4 linked regions of the Homo sapiens genome follow. The protein of the gene in region 3 interacts with the protein of the main gene of each other region in a pairwise test. Each region holds a gene or a part of one and is shown on either strand. Other genes may lie near its edges. The genes, in order: A1CF, DTX2, DOK3 and DOK4.

Evidence for each region.
Region 1: the proteins of DOK3 (region 3) and A1CF interact in binary tests that used the Homo sapiens proteins (3 or more experiments, as listed by UniProt).
Region 2: the proteins of DOK3 (region 3) and DTX2 interact in binary tests that used the Homo sapiens proteins (3 or more experiments, as listed by UniProt).
Region 4: the proteins of DOK3 (region 3) and DOK4 interact in binary tests that used the Homo sapiens proteins (3 or more experiments, as listed by UniProt).

Annotation. Positions count from the first base shown.
Region 1 is NC_000010.11:50,875,613-50,882,633, reverse strand, and holds part of A1CF (APOBEC1 complementation factor), read left to right. Parts: intron 1-7,021. UniProt on the Homo sapiens protein: Essential component of the apolipoprotein B mRNA editing enzyme complex which is responsible for the postranscriptional editing of a CAA codon for Gln to a UAA codon for stop in APOB mRNA.
Region 2 is NC_000007.14:76,464,707-76,471,727, reverse strand, and holds part of DTX2 (probable E3 ubiquitin-protein ligase DTX2), read right to left. Parts: intron 1,709-7,021; exon of another isoform or gene 1-1,708. UniProt on the Homo sapiens protein: Regulator of Notch signaling, a signaling pathway involved in cell-cell communications that regulates a broad spectrum of cell-fate determinations.
Region 3 is NC_000005.10:177,506,822-177,514,700, reverse strand, and holds the start of DOK3 (docking protein 3), read left to right. Parts: upstream 1-4,874; 5' UTR 4,875-4,943; intron 4,944-5,043; 5' UTR 5,044-5,160; coding exon 5,161-5,226; intron 5,227-6,158; coding exon 6,159-6,464; intron 6,465-7,879. Other genes in the region: probable ATP-dependent RNA helicase DDX41, read left to right, coding at 854-1,016, 1,217-1,348, 1,619-1,690, 1,825-1,921, 2,056-2,205, 2,308-2,379, 2,495-2,605, 2,774-2,910. UniProt on the Homo sapiens protein: DOK proteins are enzymatically inert adaptor or scaffolding proteins. They provide a docking platform for the assembly of multimolecular signaling complexes. DOK3 is a negative regulator of JNK signaling in B-cells through interaction with INPP5D/SHIP1.
Region 4 is NC_000016.10:57,476,483-57,483,503, forward strand, and holds part of DOK4 (docking protein 4), read right to left. Parts: intron 3,908-7,021; exon of another isoform or gene 3,813-3,907; intron 3,276-3,812; exon of another isoform or gene 3,207-3,275; 5' UTR 3,026-3,206; coding exon 2,960-3,025; intron 1-2,959. UniProt on the Homo sapiens protein: DOK proteins are enzymatically inert adaptor or scaffolding proteins. They provide a docking platform for the assembly of multimolecular signaling complexes.

The sequences.
Region 1 (7,021 bases), on a different chromosome or scaffold from region 3:
GAGCAGCACTCTTGCGGTGACATTCTGTATTAGAAATCTGTATCCCATCTGCTCCTTGGCCTGATCCTGTAAAATCTGGAGAGTTATTAACAAATGTTTGCTGCTGATTCAACCAGGAAAGCTAGTTCATCATTTCATTTCATCAAATCTACTCCAACTAGGTTATCAGTTTTTTGTTGTTGATGATGGTTTGTTTGTATGAGATGGAGTATCGTTCTGTTGCCTAGGCTGGAGTGGTGGTGCAATCTCAGCTCATCACAACCTCCACCTCCTGGATTCAAGTGATTCTTGTGCCTCAGCCTCCCGAGTAGCTGGGATTACAGGCACACGCCACCATGCCAGGCTAACTTTTGTATTTTTAGTAGAGACGGGGTTTCATTATGTTGGCTAGGCTGGTCTCGAACTCCTGAACTCATGATCTGCCTGCCTCAGCCTCCCAAAGTGCTGGGATTACAGGCATGAGCCAACATGCCCGGTCTAGGTTATCAGTTTTAATGACCACTTAGAATTTTTAATTTAATAAACTAAAATTTTGTATTGAATATTTTTGATTGATGCAATCCAAAAATTAAAACATGCCCTTTTGTAAAAAATCATCGTCCTGTATAAGATATGCTGGTATCTTGAGAGCTCTAATTTGATTTCTTTTAAACATATGTAAGCTAAGATTTTTATCCTATATAGATTTATATGTGGAGTTTTATGCATATATGTATTAACAATCACATGGAGAACATTTTCCAAGTTTGTTTATTCAATAGGAATTGGTCCCTGGTAATATTAAGAGAGAAATACTAATAAGGATGTAAGATAAATCCTTCTGATTTGCACAGTTAAGTGCAATGCTCTGCTCCAGATGTAATATGACTAAAGAGAATTAACACATGACAATTTAGGCAGACAGAATGTCTAAGTGAGCAGATTGGTTTATAATTCTATAAAATCCCACCTGCAGTAGTGATGTAGTGATGCCTTCCCTCCCTCCAGCAATTAAAAACTATTCATTGTTTTAGGATGCCCAATTGATTTAAAAATCACTAGGTTTAAGTAGTAGAACTAACTACAATATCTTATTTCCATAGGATATTCTAGTTTATAAAGCTTTTCATATACAAGAACTTATAAAGATTTTTAATGGCAAATTTCTTATAGTTGATGTCAATTCAGTATGCCTAGTTTCTTCAAGGTAACTGTGTCAATATTCACCATTCCAATTGTACAAATCTGATTAACTGAAAGATGCTCCCACCTATCGTTTATAAGCCCAACTCTGTTTATGTAACACAATGATGTCCAACTTCACTGGACATTAACTAATGTACCTATCAGTTAAGAGGCTAGATGAGGCCGGGCGCAGTGGCTCACGCCTGTAATTCGAACACTATGGGAGGCCAAGGCAGGCAGATCACCTGAGGTCAGGAGTTCAAGACCAGTCTGGCTAACATGACGAAACCCCACCTCCAGAAAAATACAAAAATTAGCCAGGCATGGTGGTGGGTACCTGTAATCCCAGCTACCCAGGAGGCTGAGGCGGGAAAATCACTTGAACCCAGGAGGCGAAGGTTGCAGTGAGCCGAGATCGCACCATTGCACTCCAGCCTAGGCGACAGAGTGAGACTCCACCTCAAAAAAAAAAAAAGAGTCTAAATGAAAACAGTGAAGAGAGGACATAAAGGTCCATGTGGAAGGTGAGAGAAGAACCACCCCCATATGGGACCTAGAAGAAAACAGCCCTAAAAAGATGTAATTATAACTCAGTCCAGATGCTGTGACTAACACAGTGAAAGATATAAAGGAACAGAGGTTTATAAAATCTCCTACCTGCCTGGCAGGGGACTGGCAAAACATTGTGCACAAATGAAATTTTTTATTTCTATTGATTTTAGTATTCTATCCAGCTCTTCTACTGGGATTCTGCTTAGTGCTTATCTTTCCATCTGGGGCCTTCAGCATGAACTAAAATGTACTTTAAATTATTAGATGTAATTAAACTCTAATGCCTCTGATTATTTGAAATGGAAGTCAGAAATCAAAATCAGGTTCCATGGGGGGAAAACTGTGTTGGCACATATAGATGTTCATCTCAGGAATCCTCTTTCTAACCTTCTTTTCCGAAGATCCCTAAGAGTTCCTCGCCATTCATGTACTTACTACCAACTAATTATAATTGGCACCCTACGATGATGATAACAATGATGTTAATAAAATCTCTTACATCCTCTTACATCCTGCCACATGCCAGGCACATAGGTTAACTCATTTAATCCTCCATCACTCTATGGAATGGGTACTATTGCTACGCCATTTTTCCAATAAAGCAGCTACAGCTTAGGGACACAGAGAAATTTGCCCCAGGTCACACCACTAATAAGTGGTGCAGGAGTGAGTCCGGGCAGTCTGGCACAGGCCACCCTGTGAACAAAGGACAAATGGAACACTGGGAAGCATCAAGGCTTAGAACTGAAGAAAACTTTTGAGATCCTTTATTTGACAGAGAAAAGCAAGTTGGGTTCCCCAGCTTGGGTTTTTGTTAGAATGAGAACCCAAGAGCAGAACCTGAACCCTCTGTGGATACTTTTCCATTATACCACTTCCCACTGTAAAGCATTTCTAATTCAGCCTGATTCTCTGTGAAAATTCTGAGAGACGAATTAATAGAATCCCTATAGTTAAACAGGAATACTCCCTTCACTCCAAGTCTCACCTTCCTTGCTGTGCCCAGACTCATGGACTGACCTAGCCAGAGACTCAGTTAAAGGAGACCCATTTTGTGACTTGGAGAGACTGACAGGCCCACATCACAGAGGAAATACATGCAGACACAGACATGGATATGGTTTAGCTTTTTGTCCCCACCCAAATCTCATCTTGAATTGTAATCCTTAGGCCTGAAGGAAAGAATCTGGTGAGAAGTGATAGGATTATGGGGGTGGTTTCCCCCATGCTGTTTTCATGATAATGAGTGAATTCTCATGAGACCTGGTGGTTTTATAAGTGTTTGACTTTTCCTTCTGTACACACTACTTCTCTCCCCTGCTGTCACATAAGAAGGCCTAAGCTTGCTTCCCCTTTGCCTTCCACCATGATTGTGAGTTTCCTGAGGCCTCCCCAGCCATGCAGAACTGTGAGTCAATTAAACCTCTTTCTTTATAAATTACCCAGTCTCAGGTATTTCTTTGTAGCAGTATGAGAACAGACTAATACAGGCACCATGAACATAGTGACAGGATAAACCATGGAGGCATTGATAAAAATAAAAAGTAATTGTGATGAATGACTTGGTTGCAATTACACTCAAATTCTGTTAGTGTCTGAAGAGGACATAGCACCTCCTACCTGGAGGACATACCCTTTTCCCCATGGAAAAAATAATTGGGCTGCTAGGTCTGTGTCTGCTAAGGGAGTCCCATATTTAAACTGACCTAATTCAGAACTTTAAATTGAGACTCAGATGCTCCCAAATAGCAGCTCCACCAACCTGAATAGAGTTACTCATTTAGAATAAGAGTTTGTTCCCACAAGTTTTGTTAAAATACAAATTAGTTGGGATGCGGGGTGTGAGTGATAGGGACTAAAATCGCTTAACAGACTAGCCTGGCAAAGCCCTGTGGGAAGCAAGTTTTGATGATAGGGAAGAGAAGATGTCAAGAGCAGATGGTCCAGGGAGGAAGTGTCACAAGTAACTTGGGGGTGATATAAGGGACTTGAGTAGCAGGTATTTGTCTGATCTTTAAGGAATTAACTTATTAAAGAATTTTGTTAGTAAAGTCATTTGAGTATCACACTTGCAACATACTAATTCATCCATGTCTAGTTTTCTCATTAAATCACAGATATTTAACAGGTGCATTAACTTGAATTGACATCATGCAGCAAATGCCATTATATGGACCCTTAAGATATTTTAAGAGAAAAACCTATAATGCCTGGAAACTCTTAGTTTTCTCTGACATTTAAAAACAAGCCGTAAAATCAAATCCTTTCTATAATAATTTAGTAACTCAGAATTGCAAAGGATTTCCTAAAGCCCAATGATCCAAAGCTCTGACCTGTGATGTTGGCATAGCAGAGTGGGAGACAAATCATATGTTAAAGCAGAAGGCTCTGGATCTGGAATGCTTGGATACAAATTCTGGCTCTACCACTTGCTACAATTTAACTCTAGGCAAATTACTGAACTCTGTGACTATTTCCTCTTCTGTAAAGTCAGGGTTGTTTCAATAATTAGATCAGAAATTGTAAAGTGCTTAGAATAATACCAAGCAAGTGTGCATAAACTTTAGCCATTTAGCTATAACTCTCATCATATTTCTGTGTTGATTACAAAATGCTTTACTAGAGGAAAATAGATGAGAAAGAGGCCATGAGGTAAAAATGTACAGTGCTTTTTAAAGTAGAATGAGGTGGCTTAGAAATTAATTCTATCCCCATCACTGGCTTGTAGTAGAAATTTGAAACAGTCTCTCCCTGATTCTCTGGCAGTTTTTCTCTTTTTTTCTTTTTTTTCTTTTTGAGATGGAGTCTCACTCTGTCACCCAGGCTGGAGTGTAGTAGCGTGATCTCAGCTCACTGCAACCTCCGCTTCCCGGGTTCAAGCGATTCTCCTGCCTCAGCCTCCTGAGTAGCTGGGACTACAAGCATGTGCCACCACAACTGGCTAATTTTTTGTATTTTTGGTAGAGACAGGGTTTCACCTTGTTAGCCAGGATGGTCTCGATCTCCTGACCTCGTGATCCTCCTGCCTCAGCCTCCCAAAGTGGGGGGATTACAGGCGTGAGCCACGGCGCCCGGCCCTCTTTCAGTTTTTTCTAAGACAGAGACACTCCCTATCACAGACAGGGTCTTCTAAATTAGTAGAGAATGATTTGAAGGAAACTGGGTAATTATCAGAGGAAGTAAAAGAGAAATACAGATCCTCACACCAGAATGCAAATCTCTAAGACTTTATTATTTTCATCACTATGAAAGAAAAGATCAGTACTCAAAGCCACTTATGATGATGCATGTAAATTAGCATAAAATCAGAACAAATATAATATGGCTTTTAAAATAGAAACATAAGGCTATCTTTCCTTACAAGTGTCAGATTGCTTCTGTGCCACTGTAACACAGAGCTTTAGATGGATTTTTTAAAGCTTCACTCAGAGATCAAATGTACTCCATTAGTCAGTGATTGGCAGACTTGGTGAAAATTGAGTTTTCAACTTAAATTTCTCCAAATTGGTCTGAGGAAACCAGATGCAGCAACTAAGTTCAGAAGGTCAGAGTCTCAATAAGGTTAAAAAGAGAGGGAGAAACATAACACTAGAAGTATGAATGAATGAAATAGACCACACACAGCTCATCAGGTCTCTATAATATACCACGCAAATAATTGGTACCAGGACTATTGAATAATCAACTGCTTTTAAGCTGAAGAATATCTACATTGTATACCATGATTACCACTTTACCAATTCAAAAGACAACTTAAAAATTAAACATATATACAAAGACATTCTGCTTTTTTCATTAGGCCATGTCATTCTATAATTTCTAAATTCTGTCAACTCTCTTCCCCAGGAATCTTCTAGAAGTCAGGCATTTTGGGAATAGTTGAGTATCATAATTGAATAAAGATAGCACAACAGTCACCTGTAGTAGTCTGATCTTACAGGTACTAGAACAATAACAGCACAAAAACAGAGTTACGTGTATGTATTATTCAGTGTTCTCTAGAAGAAAACATAGTATATGTATATATAGGCAATACATTTATAAATGCATAAAACAAATATAAATTTGTGTAAGTATGCATATAAATATGTAAGTCTACACATATAAATACAAATAAAGAGATTTATTCTATGGGATTGGCTCATGCAATTATAGAAGCAGGAGTCCCAAGATTTGCAGTAAGCAAGCTGGAGATTCAGGGGAGCCCATGCATAGTTCCAGCCCAAGTCCAAAGGCTTGAGACCCAGAAAAGCAATAGTGTAAGTTCCAGTCCAGAAGCCATCAGGTTAGAGACGCAAGAAGAGCCAATATTTCAAGTCCGAAGATCAGGAAAGGCCAATGTCCCTGCTCTGTCATGCAGGCCCAGCTCCCTCTTACTCAGCTTTTATGTTTTATTCAGGTTTTCAATTGATTGGATGAGGCCCACTCACATTGCATCTGCTGTTAAAATTTTCCAAGATCTTTTTGGGGTTAAAAACCTATCATTCATCTCTCAATCTTCAGTGTTGACAAGGACAGAGCACTTATGAGTATTCCTGTTTCTGAGTTTCTGATAAGCTTGTCCAAGTGGAGCACAGGCTGGACAATTTATAAGACAGTATTGAAGTCAGAGCAATTACAAAAGGAAAGGGGTAGGTTTCTTGTGTGATGTGCTGCAAACACTGACCTCTCAGAATTTATTCGGCCCTGTGTGTATATACGTATTCATGTCTGCACATATGTGCTAGTTCACTTATACATCTATACATACACACAATCACATATACCCAAGATCTGATGGAATAGACATGAATTTGGCTTAGCCAGGGAAATTATAGAAAGAATAATGGGAATCCTAGGCATGTGGGAAATGGGAAACAAGGACAAAGGCGCCTAGGTAAAATAAAAAGCAACTGGTGTGCCTAGGAGACCTGATGGACTTGAGCATGGAATAGCTCCAGACTTGTATTGAAAGAAAATCAGGAAAGTCAAGTTACGACCAGGTCATGGCAGGCACTGAATGTCAGGTTAAGGGGCTGAACTGTTTCTTTCTAGTTAGTGATGGGTCCAGTGAAGGATTTGGGGCAGGAGAATACTAGAAGGAATATTTTAGGGAGATTGATCTTCCAGTGGTGTGCAGAACAGATATGCCATGCCTAGAGGGTAGTAAGCAGTGACATTTCTTTCACTCTACACTTTAGCTGAGCTCAGGGTAAGTCCAGTAATGGAAGATGGGGTGGGAAATAGAGCTAGGAGTGTAGAGAGGGCAACAGGTAAGGATACATATGTACCAAAAGCAGAAAACAAGTTAAGATCCAGGCTTCAT
Region 2 (7,021 bases), on a different chromosome or scaffold from region 3:
GCAGTGGATGTGTAATGGTAACAGTAATAGCAGGCCTGGTGCAGTGGCTCACACCTTGTGATCCCAGCACTTTGACTGGCTGAGGCAGAAGGACTGCTTTGAGCCCAGGGGTTCAAAGTTGCAGTGAGCTATGATCGTGCCACTACACTCCAACCTGGGCAACAGAGCGAGACCCTGTCTCTTTAAAAAAAAATAAATAACAGCCAAGCAGGAACCCGCATCCAGGAACACAGCCCTTTGCTCCTCCCTCAGAATGAATGGAAACCAGGCTGGGCGCGGTGGCTCACACCTGTAATCCCAGCACTTTGGGAGGCCAAGGCGGGCGGATCACGAGGTCAGGAGATCGAGACCATCGTGGCTAACATGGTGAAACCCTGTCTCTACTAAAAATACAAAAAATTAGCCGGGCGCGGTGGCGGGTGCCTGTAGTCCCGGCTACTAGGGAGGCTGAGGCAGGAGAATGGCGTGAACCCAGGAAGTGGAGTTTGCAGTGAGCCAAGATCGCGCCACTGCACTCCAGCCTGGGCGACAGAGCAAGACTCCGTCTCAAAAAAAAAAAAAAAAAAAAAAAGAACGAATGGAAACCAGAAATCAGATATTTATGCCCAAGCAAAGCAGGATTTCGTTCAGCACTACTCCCAGATCGTTAGGGTGCTGACTGAGGATGAGATGGGGCACCCAGAGACAGGAGATGCTACTGCCCGGCTCAAGGAGGTCCTGGAGTACAATGCCATTGGAGGCAAGTATCACCGAGGTTTGATGGTGCTAGTAGCGTTCCGGGAGCTGGTGGAGCCGAGGAAACTGGATGCTGATAGTCTCCAGTGGGCACCGACTGTGGGCTGGTATGCGCAACTGCTGCAAGCTTTCTTCCTGGTGGCAGATGACATTATGGATTCATCCCTTACCTGCCAGGGACAGATCTCCTGGTATCAGAAGCTGGGCATGGGTTTGGATGCCATCAATGATGCTATCCTTCTGGAAGCATGTATCTACTGCCTGCTGAAGCTGTATTGCCGGGAGCAGCCCTATTACCTGAACCTGATGGAGCTCTTCCAGCAGAATTCTTATCAGACTGAGATTGGGCAGACCCTCGACCTCATCACAACCCCCCAGGGCAATGTGGATCTTCGCAGATGCACCGAAAAAAGGCACAAATCTGTTGTCAAGTACAAGACAGCTTTCTACTCCTTCTACCTTCCTGTAGCTGCAGCCATGTACATGTCAAGAATGGATGACAAGAAGGAGCACACCAGTGCCAAGAAGATCCTGCTGGAGATTCAAGAGTTCTTTCAGATTCAGGATGATTACCTTGACTTCTCTGGGGACCCCAGTGTGACTGGCAGAGTTGGCAATGACTTCCAGGACAACAAATGCAGCTGGCTGGTGGTTCAGTGTCTGCTACAGGCCACTCCAGAACAGTACCAGATCCTGAAGGAAAATTACAGGCAGAAGGAGGCCGAGAAGGTGGCCCGGGTGAAGGCACTATACGAGGAGCTGGATCTGCCAGCCGTGTTCTTGCAGTATGAGAAAGACAGTTACAGCCACGTTATGGGTCTCATCGAATAGTACGCAGAGCCCCTGCCCCCAGCCATCTTTCTGGGGCTTGTGCACAAAATCTACAAGTGGAAAAAGTGACCTAGAGACTGCAAGGGCGGGGAGAGAAGGCTCTCAATAAGTAAATTATTGTGTAAAATAAATAAATAAATGAATAACAGCAATGGCTACCAGGTAAAGGTTTACCAGGCACCAGGCACCGTGCTAAGCCCCTCCACCTGACTAGTAATTCTCGTTGGTCCTCACAACTGGGGAAGCGGGATATTTCCATACCACAACTGAGAAAAGTGAGTCACCAGAAGACATGCAGCTTGCCCAAGGATATCCAGGGACTGAGAAAACCCAAATCTGTTTCCAGAGTTCCTGTCTTTCCCACCAAGACAGACTGACGACGGACAAACTGGCCTGTAGATGTGTTTTGCTTGGGTTACTAAGGTTTGGCTTTTAAAAACTGAGCTGATGTTTAAAAATTGGAATATTTGGCCGGGCTCAGTGGCTCACACCTGTAATCCCAGCACTTTGGGAGGCCGAGGCAGGCAGATCATGAGGTCAGGAGAGCGAGACCATCCTGGCTAATGCAGTGAAACCCTGTCTCTACTAAAAAATACAAAAAATTAGCCAAGTGTGGTGGCGAGCGCCTGTAGTCCCAGTTACTCGGGAGGCTGAGGCAGGAGAATTGCTTGAACCTAAGAAGTGGAGGTTGCAGTGAGCCAAGATTATGCCACTGCACTCCAGCTTGGGCGACAGAATGAGAATCCGTCTCAAAAAAAAAAAAAAAAGGAATATTCACAGTAAAAAAAAAAAAAAAAAAAATCTAGATTTCAAGCTTCCCTTGAAAATCAGGAAAGATGGCAATATTTGCAGGCTGGACCTAGATCCATGATCTACCTAGCAACACCAGCTAAACTGCAATGGTGGCTGGAACGTCCTCTCTGGGTGGCCACAGCTACCATGACTCCCTATGGCTAGGGCCAGCATGCTTTTCCTGTAAAGGACAGAAAAAGTCTTTGCAGTGACTCTGCCACTAGACCACAAGAACAACCATAAACAATGTGTAAACAGGAGGGGTTGCATACCAATATAACTTTATGAACAAAATCAGGCAGTGGGGCTGAATGCGGTAGCTCACGCCTGTAATCCCAGCACTTCGGGAGGCTGAGGTGGGTGGATCATTTGAGGCCAGGAGTTTGAGACCAGCCTGGCCAATACAGTGAAACCCCGTATCTACCAAAAAAATACAAAGATGAGCCAGGCGTAGTGGCGTGCACCTGTAGTCCCAGCTACTTGGGAGGCTGGGGCAGGAGAATCACTTGAACCCAGGAGGCGGAGGCTGCAGTGAGCCGAGACTGTGCCACTGTACTCCAGCCTGGGCAACAGAGTTAGACCCTGCCTCAAAAAAAAAAAAAAAAAAAAAATGCTGGGCGTGGTGGCTCACGCCTATAATCCCAGCACTTTGGGAGGCCAAGCGGGGGTGGATCACCTGAGGTCAGGAGTTCGAGACCAGCCTGGCCAACATGGTGAAACCTTGTCTCTACTAAAAATACAAAAATTAGCCAGGCATGGTGGCTGGTGCCTGTAATCCCAGCTACTCAGGAGGCTGAGGCAGGAGAATTTCTTGAACCTGGGAGGCGGAGGCTGCAGTGAGCTGAGATCGTGCCATTGCACTCCAGCCTGGCAACAGAGTGAGACTCCATCTCAAAAAAAAAAAAAAAAAAAAAAAAAAAATGGCAGTGGGCCAGATTTGGCTGAGGGTCCATCGTTTGCAGACCTCTGCCCTGTGGCCTCCCTCACATCTATTACTGTACTTTCACACTCCTACAGTTGAGCAATACTTCTCTGAACTCATGTCTCTATCAAAAAGTGAGAGAGTGCTCTGCCTCTGGCTAGCTTTGCCAACAACACGCCCTGCCCTCTGCAGACATGTCAGCCTTTGCCCAACACCTAAGGGTGAAATACAGCATCCAACAGCACAGCAGGCAGCATGCCAACAGCACCCGCCCCTGGGAAGCCCCAGGTGCTCCCCAGAGCCACACCGGGCGTTGATAACATTCTCTGCATCCGGGAATCAGGCCCTGGCCTCCCTCTCCCCTCCTCCCCTCCTCTCTCCATTCCCCCCGGATCCTCAGGATCTGTTCCCATGGCTTCAATATTCCCTTGCATACAGATCACCCAAAGCTGTCCTCGGGATGCCCTGCCCGAGCCCCTCAAACCGTCAGCTCCTGCCATCTGGACCTCCTGGCAGTGCCCAGGGCAGGTCAGGATGTTTCATGCCCTTCGTCCCCCACTGAGAATGCCCATCGCACTTGTCCACTTACTCATCTCTTAATTCCTAGCTCAAGACTCTGCCCTGTGAGATCTTTCCTAAGTTCGCTCCCGCTCCACAGGCAGAAGTGGCCACTTCTAACAATCAATGCCCACATGACGTCTCAGTGCCATTATCTGTCTCCTCCACTGGAGAATGCATACGCTCCTTAAAGGCAAGGGTTATGTTCAGGAAAAGACTTCAAACCAGACCCAGAAAACTGAGTACTAGGGAAAAAATACATTTCGCTATGTTAAAATGAAGAATGGCTGATCAACAGAAGACACCTTAAAGAAAGAGGAATAATAGGTTAAAAGCTGGGAGAAGATATTTGCAATAGACACGAAGGATTAAAATCAGCAATATATAAAGAGCCCTATAGATCAACAAAAAATAAAGCACCAAGAACCCTAATGAAAAACTGGCAAAAGACATGAATATTTCACAGGAAACACATATGCCAATAAACATAAGAGGAGATATTCAGCAGCAGGGCTCAGGGACCTAGAAACCAAGTTCCCAAAGATTCCATTTTCTACCCATTCACTTGGCCAACAGCAAATGTTGGTAAGACTGTGGAGCTGCAAGACACAGGACACTGCTGGTAAAGTGGATACTGGTATAAGCACTACATTCAGGAAATGGTCTAGCAATAGCTACGAAAGATGAACACTGCCGAGCATGGTGGCTCATGTCTATCATCCCAGCACTTTGGGAGGCCAAGGCGGGTGAATTGCTTGAGCCCAGGAGTTCAAGACCAGCCTGGGCAACACAGTGAAGCTGCCTCTGCACAAACTTTAAAAATTAGCTAAGCATGGTAGCCTGTGCCTGTAGTCCCAGCTATTCAGGAGGCTGAAGGGGATGGATCCATTGAACCCAGGAATTTGGGGCGGCAGTGATCCGTGATTATGCCACTGCACTCCAGCTGCCTGGGTTACAAGGTGAGACACTGTCTCTAAAAAAAGAAAGAAATAGGCCAGGCGCGGTGCCTCACACCTGTAATCCCAGCACTTTGGGAGGCCGAGGCAGGTGGATCACCTGAGGTCAGGAGTTTGAGACCAGTCTGACTAACATGGAGAAACTCCGTCTCTACTAAAAATACAAAATTAGCCGGGCATGGTGGCGCATGCCTGTAATCCTAGCTACTCCGGAGTCTGAGGCAGGAGAATCGGGAGTAGCTTGAACCCGGGAGGTGGAGGTTGCAGTGAGCCGAGATCGTGCCATTGCACTCCAGCCTAGGCAATAAGAGTGAAACTCTGCCTCAAAGAAAAAAAAAAAAGAGACAGAGAAACAAAGAAATACACATGTAAGATAAAACTAAGAAAAAAATGAAAGAAAGGAGATAATGATTACCTCAGGGTAAGAACAGAAAACAAGTTCAAATGAAATGATTAGATGTTCTAAGGGGACCTGATAAAGTAGAAAACTTTTTAAAGTTTTTTAAAATTAAAAAAAAAAGATTAGATATATACTTTTGTTTCATGATCCCAGCTTTTGTTTTGGGTGCCTAGATTGCCAGAGCTTACTACATTTATTAAAAATAACTTACTAAATAAGGAAAAGTAGGTCAGGCATGAACACTGAGGAGTGTGTACTAATCAATCTTGTTCTCAGCTTAGCTGATAAGGCAAACACCAAAGAGACTGCTGAATTCATCTTTGTACTCCAAGTGCCAAACACAAGCCTCGGCGCACAGAATTTCGGGAGGCATTTGGGGAATGAATCAGGGCTCTTCTCTCTAGCCCATGGCCTCATTTCCTGTTGGCCTCTTAATACCTTCAACACGTCTGAGGCCAAACGCATCTTCCTTCCTCATTCTCCTTTTCCCCCTGGATTTCCCCCAGGCGGCCAAGAGAAAAACCTCAGATTCTCAGTCCTCCGCAGCCCGCTCCCCCAGGCCTAGCAGCTGCCTGCCCTGCTCTCTCCTCACCTCTGAAGCCCCCTGCTAACACCTGGCCGGGACCCTTATGCCTCTCACTTTACCCCCTCCCTGCCGGGCGCAGTGGCTCACGCCTGTAATCCCAGCACTTTGGGAGGCCTCGGTGGGTGCATCACCTGAGGTCAGGAGTTCGACACCAGCCTGGCCAACAGAGGGAAACCCCGTCTCTACTAAAAATACAAAAATTAGCCAGGCATGGTGGCAGGTGCTTGTAGTCCTAGCTACTTGGGAAGCTGAGGCAGGAGAATCACTTGAACCCGGGAGGTGGAGGTTGCAGTGAGCCAGGATGGCGCCACTGCACTCCAGCCTGGGTAACAGAGCGAGACTCCATCTCAAAAAAACAAAACAAAACAAAAAAACAAATAAGTGCTCCCTCCCAAACAGCTTCTCCAACTCTGCTTTCTAACCCTCTTGTACATCTCAGATGGGGGGGCAGAAAAGATTAAGCTTCCTGAACTAACGTTCTGATCTTGTCTTTTACACACCTCCCCTGGATCTCTAGAATGAAATTCAAATTCCTTAGGCTGACAGTCAAAGCCGATCACAATACCGCCCTTCCCTCGCTATCAACAATATTTGCCGGTGCCCTTCCCTTCCATCCCCTCATCTATACCTCCCTCTCCACAATTCCCTTCCAGAGTGTAAATGAGGATCCACTACTCCCATGTGCATCAGCGTGTCTGTCCCCACCCCCATGACTCTGCTTCACCCTGAATCCCACCCACTTGGTCCCCTGTCCTCACCTTACCCACCCTTTTATGGCCCAATTTAAACAGCACTTCCCACGATGCCTGGATGTGCCCAGCAGAAAGCAAACACCCTCTAAATCAGCCAGGCATGATGGTGTGCACCTGTAAGTCCAGCTACTCGGGAAGCTGAGGCACAAGAACCTCTTGAGCCTGGGAGGTGAAGTTGAGCAGTGAGCTGAGATTGCACCACCGCTCTCCAGCCTGGGTGACAGAGTAAGACCCTGTCTCAAAAAGTAAACAAACAAAACAAAACAACAACAACAAAAAGAATGAAAGAAAACACCCTCTTAGCAAGTTCCTTTTCAGTTCTCTATGTTCACTTTATCTCTTCAACTAGACTATAAGCAACTGAGGGCAAAACCACTCACCTGCCTCTCCCCACGAAGAAGCTGGCATGATGTATGTAAGAAGACCGCCACAAAGCGAATAATCCAGTCTAAACCCATTCCACATGTTCCAGTGTGCTCCATTAAAATG
Region 3 (7,879 bases):
GTGAGTGCTGGCGCTCCCTGCCCCCCACCTCTGCCACCTGCGAGTCTGTGGAAAAGCTAAAGGACCCTTTACCTTAGCCACTCCACAGATCTTCACAGAGGGCTGCTGTGAGTGCGACCCTCAAGGAGCTCCCAGTCTAATGGGGAGGTTAGTTGGGGGAGGACAGAGGGATGTGGCCAGGTACTGTGGGAGCACGGCAGATGGAATGGCCCACCTTGCTGGGGACATCTGGGAGGTGGGAGCTCAGAGAAGGCTTTTCCGGGAAGGTGACATTTGAATTGGGAAGAGGGGCAGTCCAGGCTGAAAGCACAGAGGCGGACGGCCCAGGAAGGTCAGGGTCATTCAGTGGTCAGTCAAGGAGGTTGAGGCACTGGGGTAGGGCTGGATCCCAGCGGCACCTGTGTCCTTTCAGTGCTGTGCAGTCCTCTGCAGACCACCAGAGGCCCTGGACCAGGCCCTCTGTTCACAGATGGGCCAGACCCCATCCCGGAGGCCTTCCTCCACGGACTTCTGAGTATTAGGGAGATGGTGAGCACAGAAAAGGTGAAGCCAGTGGGCCAGGAAAGCGAGCCCAGAGTAAAGCCTCTGGAGCTTGATGACAGCGCTTCTGGGTGAGAGGCTGACCCAGGAGAAGGGGGAAGGCGCGCCAGGCCGAGCGGTGGTGAAGATGGCTGCAGTGCCTTGGGAAAGAGCTGTGTGCTATACATAGGGCAGGTGGTGGGAATGATGAGAAGGGGACAGACAAAGAAATAGGAAGGAGGACAGAGAGCAGAGCAGATGCAGGGTGCCTGCTTGCCTCTAGATAGGTGATAGGCCAGTGGCCCCAACCTCAGGGTCTCTCCTTGGTCCCCAGCGGTGTACACATGATGGTGGCCACCCCGGGGCGCCTCATGGATTTGCTGCAGAAGAAGATGGTCAGCCTAGACATCTGTCGCTACCTGGCCCTGGACGAGGCTGACCGCATGATCGACATGGGCTTCGAGGGTGACATCCGTACCATCTTCTCCTACTTCAAGGTGCCGCCCCCGCCCGGCCAGGGCACCCTGCACCGCCCCCCACTGCACGCCACATCAGACTGCAGGGACCCCATGCCCCTGGCCACCCCAACCCACTGCTCATACTTTGTGGGCTGTGTCTCAGTTGCTCAGCTTCCCCAGACCCCATGCCCCTCAGCCCAGCCCTGTGTGCCCTTGGTCGCAGCCCCCCTCTTCCTCAGGGCCAGCGACAGACCCTGCTCTTCAGTGCCACCATGCCGAAGAAGATTCAGAACTTTGCTAAGAGTGCCCTTGTAAAGCCTGTGACCATCAATGTGGGGCGCGCTGGGGCTGCCAGCCTGGATGTCATCCAGGTGGGCAGGTGCTCCTGATGGGCGGTCTCTCACCTGTGGGGGCTGGATCTGACAAGTCTCCCTGAAGCTGATTGGAGCCGGGGGTCCACCTTGTGGGAACCGGGGGTTTCATTCAAAGCCCCTGACGCTTAACCAGGGCCATTTTTAGGGCACCAGCCCTTGGCGGCCAGAGGCTTCTGGTCACCTCCTGGTCCAGATGACGGGCCATGGCAGGGCTGTGGCGGGTAAGCCTAATCTCAAGATCACCTGACCTGATCTTTGTGGTGGCAGGAGGTAGAATATGTGAAGGAGGAGGCCAAGATGGTGTACCTGCTCGAGTGCCTGCAGAAGACACCCCCGCCTGTGAGTGCAGCCAGGCCAGGCCGGGGCCAGAGTCCCCAGGACCAGGGAGGGCTTTGGAGGGGACAGAGTGCCAGGGGAGGTGCGGTGGGTGCCCAGGCAGTTAGCCCCTGACTGGAGTTGGTCTTTCCGGACAGGTACTCATCTTTGCAGAGAAGAAGGCAGACGTGGACGCCATCCACGAGTACCTGCTGCTCAAGGGGGTTGAGGCCGTAGCCATCCATGGGGGCAAAGGTCAGGGTGGTGCAAGCACTGGCTTGGACCCTGCTGCAGTAGCAGTGCTTTACCTAATGCCTTCCCCTGCCTGGTTGGCCTGCCACTCCCCTGTCCCATGGTGGCTCTGACAGTGTCTGCCTGACCCTCCCCAGACCAGGAGGAACGGACTAAGGCCATCGAGGCATTCCGGGAGGGCAAGAAGGATGTCCTAGTAGCCACAGACGTTGCCTCCAAGGGCCTGGACTTCCCTGCCATCCAGCACGTCATCAATTATGACATGCCAGAGGAGATTGAGAACTATGGTAAGAGCCTGGGGCCCAAGGGCATGGGTTAGGCCGGAAAAGGGCCAAGCCAGGCCCCTAGTGTCCAGCGATGGGCCAGAGACTCTGTCCTTCTCTCTGCAGTACACCGGATTGGCCGCACCGGGCGCTCGGGAAACACAGGCATCGCCACTACCTTCATCAACAAAGCGTGTGGTGAGTCTGTTACCAGCGCCACCTTAGCTGTTCCCTGGGTCCCCTGCCTGTGGCCACCCAGGTTCTGGCCACAGAGCCCAGGATGGGCCCTGATGCTTCCCCACTCCTCCCCCAGATGAGTCAGTGCTGATGGACCTCAAAGCGCTGCTGCTAGAAGCCAAGCAGAAGGTGCCGCCCGTGCTGCAGGTGCTGCATTGCGGGGATGAGTCCATGCTGGACATTGGAGGTGACTGCAGAGCGGGATCCCCGAGTCCCCAGCCGGCAGGTGGCAAGGAGGGGTGCTGGAAGTCAGAAACGTGAAACCGGTGGACCGAGGGTGCCTAACGGGGGGCCCGAAGTCCAGGGCATGGATCCTGGTCCTTGACTTGGCTGACCCCTGTCCCCATTCCCCCAGGAGAGCGCGGCTGTGCCTTCTGCGGGGGCCTGGGTCATCGGATCACTGACTGCCCCAAACTCGAGGCTATGCAGACCAAGCAGGTCAGCAACATCGGTCGCAAGGACTACCTGGCCCACAGCTCCATGGACTTCTGAGCCGACAGTCTTCCCTTCTCTCCAAGAGGCCTCAGTCCCCAAGACTGCCACCAGTCTACACATACAGCAGCCCCCTGGACAGAATCAGCATTTCAGCTCAGCTGGCCTGGGATGGGCCAGGCTGGTCCTGGCTGCCTGTTCCCTGTGCTCTTCAGAATTACTGTTTTTGTTTCCTTTTACCCCAGCTGCCATTAAAGCCCAAACCTCTAGCCCAGCCCTGGCCCTGCCTCTGTGTTTCACCTCATCCGCCCCCTGGTTCCTGGACAGACGTCACCTCTGACCTCTGGAGCCCCTCTGAGGCAAGGCCCCAGCATCTCCCACTAGCACTGCCAACACCTGGCCTGCTGGTACTTGGCTGTGGAAGGAGCCACCGAGCTGGTGCCCGCCTCTGGGGACTCTGGGTCTCTCCACTGGGTTGTCTGAATTTATGACTCAAGGAGGGACCACATTGGCGGGCCAAGGAGAAGTGCTTGGATTCTCTGGTCTCCCTGGCCAGCTGTCATAGCTCTCAGGCCCACTCTTCCTGTCAGGGCTGTGATGTTTCAGGGACTTCTCCTGAAGCCCCTTGGGAGGCTGCTTCTTGCCTCAGGACCCCCACCCACTGCCTGCCTGTGCCAGCCACCTGGAGGGAGCCCTCCATTCCGTTGACTGAGGAGGCAGCAGATGTCATAGAACTGCCATTTAGGCCACAAGCTCTCCCTAAGCCTGCTCTGTGCCCAGCTCTGCTGAGCTGTGAGGACCTAGATGGGCCAGGGAGATGGCTGCCTGGGAAGCCGTCAGGCGAGGGGAGAGAAAGACGCACACGCAGAAACGTGGACGGCAGTCACAAGACCGCTAGCAGATGAGGCAGGATCTCAGCATCTGGTGAGAGGTAGGCAGGGACGGCACAGGCGGCCACACTTCCTCTGAGCCAGGCACTTTGCATGTATGGCCACATGCTCATTCCAGTGAGACAGCGGTTGCTCAAGCCATATTTGTCACTTGATATGTGGCATTGGGCAAGTTACTTAATTTTTCTGAGCACCGATTTCCTCACTGTTGAAATGGCGATGAGAACGCAAAGGATGTGGCGTCTGAGGTGGACGGAGCTTAGGGCTGCTTGGGCCACAGTGGGCACAGAGCTGGGTGCCAGGAGGCCTTCAGGACATATTTCCTGGCCAAGTGCATTCCCAAATGGCATTCCTTATCCTCTTCCATGTTCTCTCCCAGAGGTGGTGCTGAATGACCTGAGGCTGTTCCAGAATAAAGGTATACACACAGCCCCGCTATTGGCATCTTGCTAGGCAAGCCAACAAAAGGCGCCCCCAGCAGGAAGCAAAGCTTTAAATGAACATGTGACCTCTCCGGGGCCCCCTGGGACCTGCCACCCACACTCACGTGGTTGGGGCCATTCAGGGCTGTGGGTCCCATGTGGACTGGATGCCCAGCGTGAGTGTATACCGTGAGGGCCTTTGAGCTCTCGGACAGCGTGGAGTGGTCAAGGGAGGCCTCCAGGAGGAAGAGGTGGCCAACCGCCCCAGGCAGCACAGTGGTGAGGGGGCCCTGGAGGGGCTGGCCTGGGGGAGATGCAGGCCAGAACACACAGGTCCCTGAGTGTTGGGCTGAGGAGCCTGGGCTGCACCCCAGGAAGGGGAGAGACAGGTTGGTCTTGGGTTGTGGAGAGTGCTGCATGGAGGCCCAGTGGGGCAGTGGCCCCTGGGGGGATGCCAAAGGCTGGTGATGTTCAGTGGCTCGTGAGGTGGAGAGGAGCAGGTGAACACGAGAGAGATTTCAGGGAGAAAGAAAAGCAGCAAGATGGGGTGAGGCGCTCAAACCAGGACGCCGAGTGGGAAAGCCAGGAGTTGGCTAGAGAAGGGTCCTGGGTGGAGGCAGGGCCAGGGAGTGTCAGGCCCAGGGTGCGCAGCTGCCCGGGGCGGGACGGGGGAGGGGCGGGAACTCATGACTCGGGGAGCCAGACTGCGATCAGACGCGCGTGCCCAGCTGAACCAGGTGCGTGAGAAGGCTGCCTTCAGGTGGCCGGGGGCTCCCTCCAGGTAGGTGTGGGCACCTTGGGCAGCCAGAACCCCAGGGAGGAAATACATGCTGCCCCCAGCCCCTGAGCTGAAGACAGGCTCCCCTCCCCCCGGCCTGCAGCTGTCTCTAGACGGAGGGACGGGAAGTGGCCAGAAGGGGAAGTGTGAGGAGTTCCCGTCCAGCCTGTCATCAGTCTCCCCAGGTCTTGAAGCGGCGGCCCTGCTCCTGGCCGTGACCATGGACCCTCTGGAGACCCCTATCAAGGATGGCATCCTCTACCAGCAGCATGTCAAGTTTGGCAAGGTGGGGACCCCTGGCTGCCAGGCAGCTGCCAAGGACCAACAGTGGGTGGAGAATGCAGCCTCTGCCCCTGCCTCGGACAGCCCAGGCAGACCTGGGAGACTTGGGAAGGGAGTCAGGGTGGAGGATCCCACCCAGGTATGGGGAGTGGAATGGAGTGCGGGTGTCAGCCTGAGACGGCAGGGGCTGAGCAGGCTCTGCCAGACCCTGCCTCCGGGAGAGATGGGAAATACAGGAGTGGGAGAGGGTCGAAGGCTCAAACCTCCCAGCAGGGAAGAGCTTCACAGCCTCTGACCCATGAAATAGTGCCACCGAGGGCCCTAAATAGGGTGAGGGGCTGAGCTGGAGGAGGCCTCAAGGGTGGAGCCCCTCCCTGCAGCGGCACTGTCCTGGGAGCAAGGAGGCAGGGGGTCACCTCTCCTCGGCAGCAGCCCCACACCCCCGCAGCTCAGCTGCAGCTGCTGCCCAGGCAGATAAACCGTCAGTTTCCTTTGCTCGAAGCTATTTGCATGTTTCCTTCCTTAACAGCTTGAGGCAGAGGCCTCCCTCCCACCCCAGCTCTTGGCCTGTGGCCCAAGTGCCCCTTTTTGGGGGTGAGAGGGAACCAATATAATGGCAGTGTCTGGTGGTCTGCCCGGCCACTGGATGCTTTACAAACATGACCCAGTAGCAGTCCCAGCTCGAGTTCTCATGGCCTTTTGAGAGACGACATTGATGCTTGTGGAGGTCACAGTTAGGAAAGAGCGGGCTGGGATTTGAACCCAGGGCTGACCAATCCCAAGCATAGCCAAGGCCTCCTTACCTGGCTCCCTGAGAAACTGGGGAGCAGAGGCCCGCTCCTGGCTGGGAGCGTTTGCCGAGCAGCTTGTGCTGAGCCAAGTGGCACGGACAATCTGCCACCCAAGGGTCTTCACCCTCCCGCTCCCCTCCCGCAGAAGTGCTGGCGGAAGGTGTGGGCTCTGCTGTATGCAGGAGGCCCATCAGGCGTGGCACGGCTGGAGAGCTGGGAGGTCCGGGATGGTGGCCTGGGAGCAGCGGGTGACAGGTCGGCAGGGCCTGGCCGGCGAGGGGAGCGACGGGTCATCCGCCTGGCTGACTGTGTGTCCGTGCTGCCGGCTGACGGCGAGAGCTGCCCCCGGGACACCGGTGCCTTCCTGCTCACCACCACCGAGCGAAGCCATCTACTGGCTGCTCAGCACCGCCAGGCCTGGATGGGCCCCATCTGCCAGCTGGCCTTCCCGGTGAGTGCGGCGAGCAGGGGGGCGATTGGGCTGGGGCACCTGCCCCCGACTTGTCCACCTCCACGCTCACATCCCATCACCCAGCAAGCTCCACCGAGCACCTACAAGCCTGGGAAAAGTAAATCTATAATGACTCTCAGAGGGCCGTGCGTGCCATGGAGAAAATGGACCGCCAGGGGAGCAGGAGGAAGTGAGGGAGCGACGGGCAGGGTGGCCAGGGAAGGCCTCTCAGAGGAGGGCCCTGAATGACAGGAACCCACTGGGCAAAGGTCTGAGGACAGGGGCAGCCTGGGGAGTTGTGAACAGAGGGAGTCCCGTGGGCAGAGGCCCCGAGGCCGGACAGTGTGGGGTGTTTAAGGGCAGAAAGAAGGCGACGTGGCTGGAAGGAAAGGAGTGCAGGAGGAAGCCAACTCACAGAGCTTAGGAGAGCGGCTGAAATGCCCTAGGCCATGTGTGTGGTTTTGTTCTGAGTGAGAGGCGAAGGCTTTGGAGGGTTTAAGCCGGACATGTTTGTAAAGCCCCAAAAGGTCTGTGATGGGTCAAAAGGAAGTGAGCCTGGGGGTTCTTCAAAGAGGTAAACAGAGTTACCATGTGGCCCACAGGTCCACTCCTAGGTGTGTGCCCAAGAGAACTTGAACAGGTGTTCAAACAAAACATGTACATGTGAGGCAGGAGGATCGCATGAGCCCCAGAGGTCGAGGCTGCAGTGAGCTGTAATCGTGCCACTTCACTCCAGCCCGGGAGACAGAGCAAGACCCTATCTTAAAAAAAAACCCACATGGACATGAACGTCCATAGCAGCACTACTCACAGCCACCAGAAGGTGGAAACAGCCTACATGGCCATCAGCTGACAAATGGATAAGCAAAACGTGGTCCGTCCGCAAGATGGAATACTACTCAGCCATAAAAACAAACAAACGCCTGGCACAGTAGCTCTTGCCTGTAATCTTAGCACTTTGGGAGGCTGAGGTAGGAGGATTGCTTGAGCCTAGGAATTCAAGATCAGCCTGGGCAACATAGTGAGACCCTGTCTCAAAAAAAAAAAAGAAAAGAAGAAAGAAAGAAATGTACAGACAAGGTAACTCCATTGGGATAGAAATCAGATGAGTGTTGGCAGGAGCTGGAGGAAGGGAGAAGTGGGGAGTGGCTGCTCATGGGTACAGGGCTTCCATGTGGGATGATGGAAAAGTTCTGGAACTAGACAGTGGCAACAGTGCACAGCCTTGTGAGTATACTAAAAAGCACTGGTGGCCGGGTGCGGTGGCTCAGGCCTATAATCCCAGCACTTTGGGAGGCCGAGGCGGGCGGATCACCTGAGGTCAGAAGTTCGAGACCAGCCTCAACATGGAGAAACCCCGTCTCTACTAAAAATACAGAAGTAGCTGGGCATGGTGGTGCATGCCTGTAATGCCA
Region 4 (7,021 bases), on a different chromosome or scaffold from region 3:
AACAGAGGGGTCTCCTGGGGATAGGGATTAGACCCTTCCCCCTGCCCACCTGTACATCCCCGTGCCCCTAGTTCTCTGAGTCAGGTGAGGGTCTTTACAAAGGTAACCCCCACTCTTGTCTCCTGGGGCTTTCACTCACCCTCTCTTTTCATTCTCTTACCAACCCTGAAATGTAAGGGGCCCTGCTCCAGCTGGGAACCCAAAGCTGTTTGAGGTAAAGGGGTGGAGCTAGGAATCTGAGGCTCCTCCCACAGCATGGTGCCTTCCCTCCTGGCCCTGGCCACTGCTGATGCCCCTGTACCTTAAACTACCTACATTCTCTGTAGCTTCAGGGACTCCCCCAAGGGGGTGGGGAGCAGAGGGGAGTGACCACTCTAGGATTGAAGGGACAGACTGGCCTATCATTCATGGGTGGTGGAGAGGGAGTTGGCCCCAGCCACCAGCCAGAGCTGCCCTTGCATGACCCCTCCCTCCTGCCTAGACTTTTTTCTGCCCAAAGTCTGTGGCTGGGGTTTACCTACTCCTTCCAGCGGGCATTCCAAAAGCCCGACAGAGCCTGTTCCCCAGGCATCTCTGGTGTTCCTCTTACTGGAAACAGTAGGGAGACTGAGTGGTGGCCGAGAGCACAGCAGAGGAGGCCAGGGGGCCTCTAGGCCCCACCCCTCCTCGGCCCTACTGTGCCATGCGTACACTAGGTCCTTGGCAGGCAGGGTCCCAGGGTGCAGTGGCCCTAGGCAGCCCCCATTTCAAGATACCACTCAGAGCCAGGCCATTTCTGGCTCCTATCTGGGACCCTAGGAGGCATGTCTGCTCCTGCACCCCTGACCCTGGCTTGGCCCCTGTCCTACCCACCTAAACCACAGCAGCCCTCAGCTCTCAGCTGCAGCGCTCCCTTAAGACAGACACTGAATTTTATCCACAGAATCCTCACTCATATCCTGGTAGCCTCATTAACAGCCATGCTAAACAAGTGAATGACCATATGAAGGAACCGTGAATGAATGGATGGATGAATGGATGGATGCTGCCGACCCAGATACACCCTGCCAGGGTGGGCTCCATGCAGCCCGCAGCATCAGGGGCAGAAGGCCTGGGGGCCTGAGCATGCCGGTTGCCTGGTTACAGGATACACATTCACAGCCCCAGGGAGCCACGCGCTCAAGAGCCCTCCTTCCCACTTCGCACAGGGCTTTGATCAGTGCTTCAGAAACACTCTGCCACAGCTCTGCCGCGGGAGAAAGGCCCTGGCAGGTAGGAGAGCCGGCTCCTGATCTCTTTCAGCCCCTCCCCCCTCACCTCTGTGGGCTGAGATGAGAATGGCTGCTGGGGAGGGACCACAGCCTCTCACACCAGGGGAAGTGAGGCTCCTGGCTTCAGAGGGAAGAGAATTCCCTGCATGGATAGGGCCTGGCTATGCCCCACCTCCCCATCCAGGCTGTGCCCACCTGTCAGCCACTCAGTCTCCCTCTGGAACAGGTTTGATACTGAGCCCAAGTGGCTGCCCTTGTGGCTGGTGCCTTCCTGGCACACTCTGCCCTGGGCAAGGCCTCAGCCCAGCTGGCCCCTGGGGACCTGCTAAGTCTGGGGCCATAGGAATGAGAAGTGATGTTAGAAGCGAAGCCTCTGCTTCCTTGGCCTCCCTACCTCAGCCTCAGCTTCTCTCTTTGTTCTGTGCTCCAAGTCAGTGGGCTGATCCCCCTTTCAGAGGAAGAGCAAAGTAGCCGATGGCTGCCAGGGCCCAGTCTCAACTAGGTTGAGCCCCAGGGCAGGGAGGCACAGGAGGGGAAGTGGGGCCAGAACCACCTTCTCCAAGACCAGCCCTGCTCTGTCTGGTACCCAGGTAGGGAAGCTGGGTGGCAGATCCCTCTCCCACTCCGCATGCCCCCCAACCCCACTCAGGCTGAGCCAGGGATCCTTGAGCAGCCTGAGCCGACCCGCCCCCTTCAAGGCAATGGGAGAGAGAAGGGAGAAGGGGACAGGAGTCCTGGGTCAAACACAAGACTTGGGTGACCTCAGTCACCAGGGCTGTCCTTCCTACAGGGGAAGGGGCAACTGCCAGACCTGTCTTTGGCAGGGGGGCCTGGCAGAGGAATAGAGGCAGCTCTCAGACAGCCTCGCCGAGATCATGAAGTTGATCCCCTCTGCTCCTGTCTTCTAGGGGGTCTTCACCAGTTGGGGGTCTACAGAGGGTAGGACAGGATGCATGCCCAGTAAGACCTCTTCTCTGTAGCCCCTCCAAGCCCCCAGTTCAGGGCCAAGCACCAAGCAAGCACAGAGTCACCCACCAACAACTTGGAGGGAAGCAGCCTGTCCCAGAGCACTGGACCATTCTGCCCAAAGTTCTCATTTGGAAACCACATAAATATCAGCTTCAGTGCCTCACACCACCCCGTCTCGCCCAGCCAACCACTCCCCTTTTCAAACACTTCTTTAACATTAAACTCGACAACCAAAAATTTACTAAATATCTGCACACGGAAAGCAGTCAGAAGCAAGGGGAGAGGATGACCTAAAAGAAAAGAGGCCAGGAGAGGTGAGGGGAGGCCGGGGGTGGGGGGCAAACGGAAGGGAGAGGAGGCCAGGGGAAGTGAGACGCTGCTTCTCAGCTCAGACACAGCCCGGCCTTGCCAGCCGCCCCTGCTGCTGCTGTGGTGACAACTTCAACAATAGCAGGGGAGCCGCCTGCCCATCGGTGGCCACCATTGCTGCCACTACCACCACCACTGGCCCAGCTGTTGGGATGCCAGCCAGCCCTCTGGGGCGGGGGCTGCAGCAGGCAGAACCCAGCCCAGGCACATGCCAGGCAGCACGCTGGCGAGGAGCCCCGAGACCACAGATGCACGATGCCCGGCAGCCGGAGGGCAGCCGCGTGCCCCACGCGCCATGCCTCCAAGCCTGGGACCGAGTCCTCGGGCCCCCATCCCTTGGCAGGGCCCCTCCGCAGCTCAGGGTCACTCACCCCGAGCTTCCTGCTCTTCATCTTCACGTAGCCTTGCTTGACGATGTCACTGAAATTGGTCGCCATGGTTTTCCCACCTTTTAGGGGCGCGGGGCCTGGCAGAGGCGAGGGGAAGGATGCCCAGGTGCCTGGGTCTCCGGCTCCTCCAATCACCTGTTCCAGACACTCTGTCGGGGCTGCCGCGAGGGGCTGCTCCTCACCTCACCCGCCTCAGCATTGTTCTAGCAGCTCCTTCGCCCCGCGCCTGCTGGAAATAAAAATGACAGGGAGATTAGAGACAGTGACATCTTTCTCTTCCTCTCGCTGTCTCGCTCTCTTTTTTCCTTCCTCTTCCCACACTCCTCCTCTCTCCCTCTTCCCTCCCTCCTTCCTCCCGCCCTTCTTCCTTCCCTTCCCTCCCCACCCCAGGACGACAGAACCATTCAGGAAAACCGAGGTGGAGGCGGCAGTGAGGAAAATGGTCCAGCCCAGTCCCCTCCCTCACGGCTGGGGCTGGCAGTTAACCCCTTCCTGGGAGGACTGGCTCTGGCTCCTACTGTGGAGGTGGGGACCCAGGAAGGGAAGTGGCAGGGAGCTGCTGTCCCTCAGCACTTTGGGATCGTGGCCCCATCAACTGTGATAACTCTGGTGCAAATTTAGGTCAACTTGCCAAGAGCAAAAGCCCCTTCCTGGGTACAAGAGCTCCCAGGGGTAGCAGGGAAGCGCTTCCCAGAGATGGAGGAGGAGGGTCGCAGGAGATGACCCCTGCGTGTCTGAGTGAACCCCATGCTCTGCAATGTTAAAGACAATTTGCCTGGTCAGCTCAGCAGCCCCCACAAACCCCTCTACCCTCCTGCCCCACCCGGTCCTCTACCTGTTTCTCTCCAGCCCCAGGCTAAGAATCACTACCTCGAGCTCACGCAGGGCCTGTTCCCAGGCCCTGCAACTCTTCCGCACGCAGCTCTGGGTGCTGCTTCCTGGGTGGGAGGGCAGAGTCCAGTGGGGCGGGCCTCCAGATAAGCCTGAGGAATGTGCTGGGCCGGCTGGAGGTAGCCACTGTGGGAGCAGACGCCTTGCCCTGGCCCTGGGGTTGGGAACGCTGGCCAGTCCGTGAGGGTGGGGCCCGGGCCCCAACAGGCCACTGGGTCTGGCCAAGCCAAGCAGGCCCTCCATGTCCTGAGCATGGGCAGGAGTTAATTATAGGAGTACCAGTCAGGGCCCTGGGGCAACAAGACATGCAGGAGACAATGTGGGATACCAAGGGGAGGTAGATATGGAGCAGGAAGTGGGAGTACCAGCAGAGCCACCCCAAATCAGGCAGATCTACAGACAACAAAGACTCAGACTCAGGGGGAGGCTCAGTGTTGACCCAGTCTAACCCCTTCATTTTATAGATGGAGAAAGAAAAGTTGCCCAGAGAGGGTAAGCTACATGACTAAGGTCACACAGCAGGCCTGGGGCAGAGCCAGGGATGAAGGAGAAGGTCCAGGGTGGTGATGGAGACCAGTCTGTGGGGGGAACATCCTGCTGCCGTCTCTGGCTGCCTGCCACCACCTAAGCCTTCCCTGCCATCCATCCTCGGGGGCAGGGTTATGCCAGCAATGTGGCCCCTGTGTCTTCAGGATCAGCGGGTGGGAACGGAGCAGCATTTCTGGGGTCAGCTGGGTATCTGTGCTGCCAGAACGGGGCCCTGGGACAGGCATGCTGCTGGTTGTGCCAGCAGCTTGGCATTAATTAATGTCCTGGAGGCCTGTCTGTTGAGTGCCTAACAAGGAACAGATGGGACTACCCCAGTGGGCACACGCACAGATGGGACTACCCCAGTGGGCACACGCAAACAAGGGAGGGGCAGAGACGGTAATGCGCCCCTATCCCACTTGCACCCTGATAGCCCCTCAATTCCACTCCTGCCCATTCACTGCCTCTATCCCAGCTCCCTGGGGTCCAAGAACCTCCCACAGTTAGGCAGTCTACATTCCTCCTATAAGGTCTGGTCTGGGGTCCCCTCACTGGCAACTGATCCCCAACAGCTCTGCTACACCTGGGCTCTGGCAGCCAGAGATGGGTCAATTTTCTCAGCTCTGTCTTCACCGCCTGCCTCTGGGGCTGCCTTCTCCTCAGAGCAAGGACCAGCTCAGGAGTTCCTCTCCAAGATGATTAGCAGGCTGACCACTGGCTGTGGGTCTACAGTGTGGAAGCCCCCAGTCAGAACACGCCTACAGGAAGCCACTGGACCCCCAGGTTCATCCAACATAGCTCAGACATAGCACAGCCCGGAGTGTGAATCCAGCTGGCTGTGTGGTCCTGGGCAAGCCGCTTAAGACCCTGTGCCTTAATTTCCCCATTGGAAAAAAATGAGAATAAATCTACCTACTTTAAATGAGGAAATGAATTCATGAGGCACCTGCTTGCCCACTTGGGACACAGAGCTTCTACCCTTTTTCTTTTTCTTTTTCTTTTTTGAGACGGAGTCTCCCTCTGTCGCCCAGGCTGGAGTGCAGCGGCGCGATCTCGGCTCACTGCAACCTCTGCCTCCTGGGTTCACGCCATTCTCCTGCCTCGGCTTCCCGAGTAGCTGGAACTACAGGCTCCCACCACCATGCTCGGCTAATTTTCGGTATTTTTAGTAGAGACGGGGTTTCACCGTGTTAGCCAGGATGGTCTCGATCTCCTGACCTCATGATCCGCCCGCCTCGGCCTCCCAAAGTGCTGGGATTACAGGCGTGAGCCACTGCGCCCGGCCTTCTTTTTCTTCTTTTGAGACAGTGTCCTGCTCTGTCACCCAGGCTGGAGTGCAGGGGTGCCATCACGGCTTACGGCAGCCTCAACCACCCAGGCTCAAGTGATCCACCCACCTCAGCCTCCTGAATAGCTGGGACCGCAGGTACATACCACCATGCCCAGCTAATTTTTAAAAACTTGTTTGTAGAGATGGGGCTTTTGTTTTTTTTTTTTTTTTTTTTTGAGACGGAGTCTCACTCTATTGCCCAGGCTGGAGTGCAGTGGCCCAATCTCGGCTCATTGCAAGCTCCGCCTCCCGGGTTCACGCCATTCTCCTTCCTCAGCCTCCCGAGTAGCTGGGACTACAGGAGCCCACCACCATACCCGGCTAATTGTTTCATATTTTTAGTAAAGACGGGGTTTCACCGTGTTAGCCAGGATGGTCTCGATCTCCTGACCTTGTGATCCACCCGCCTCGGCCTTCCAACGTTCTGGGATTACAGGCGTGAGCCACTGCGCCCGGCCCCTAGAGATGGGTTTTCACCATGTTGCCCAGGCTGGTCTTGAACTCCTGGGGTCAAGTGATCCACAAGGCTCGGCCTCCCTGAGTGCTGAGATTACAGGTGTGAGCAACTGCGCCTGGCCAGAGCTTCTGCCTTGAAAACTCCAAGGGCTGTGTGTATGTATATATATATAGTTTTCTTCAAGAGTTGCTGCCCAGACAGGGCGGTGAAACCACCAGAAGCCAGCCTGCTCCTTCCCAGTGTTGCCCCACCAGGGACTGTGGCCCCAAGCTCGCAGGAGTGCTCCTGCTGCGTCTGTCCATAGGCCCCACCCCGTCCCATACCCCAGGTCCCCAGCGGGAAGAGTGACCTTCACGGGGAAGGCTGGGTGCCAAAGTCCTGCCAGCTCACTCCGGCCCTGAGTCACAGGGACCCCTGGCCACACTTAGTCCCTAATGATGTTTGCAAGAGCAAGACCTAACCTAGGACCCAAAATGGTGGGCAAAGAGGGGTTCGGAAGGGGAGGGAAAGGTCAGGGCCAATAGGTGGACCCACAAATTTGACAGGCAGTGGGGTCAAGTGGTGAGGGGGGGGCCCAGAACCAACCCACCATCCTCCAGAAGGAATGCACTGTGTTAAGCAAGCGAGGCGGCCCCCAAGCTGAGCCTGTGAAGGCCCAATAGGACAGCAAGAAGTGGAGAGCAGACCAGGCACAGTGGCTCACACCTGTAATCCCAACACTTTGGGAGGCCAAAGTGGGAGGATCACTTGGGGCCAGGAGTTCAAGACCAGATCCGGCAACATAGAGAGACCCCGTCTCTACAAAAAATGAAAAAATAAGCTGGGCATGTGGCACGTG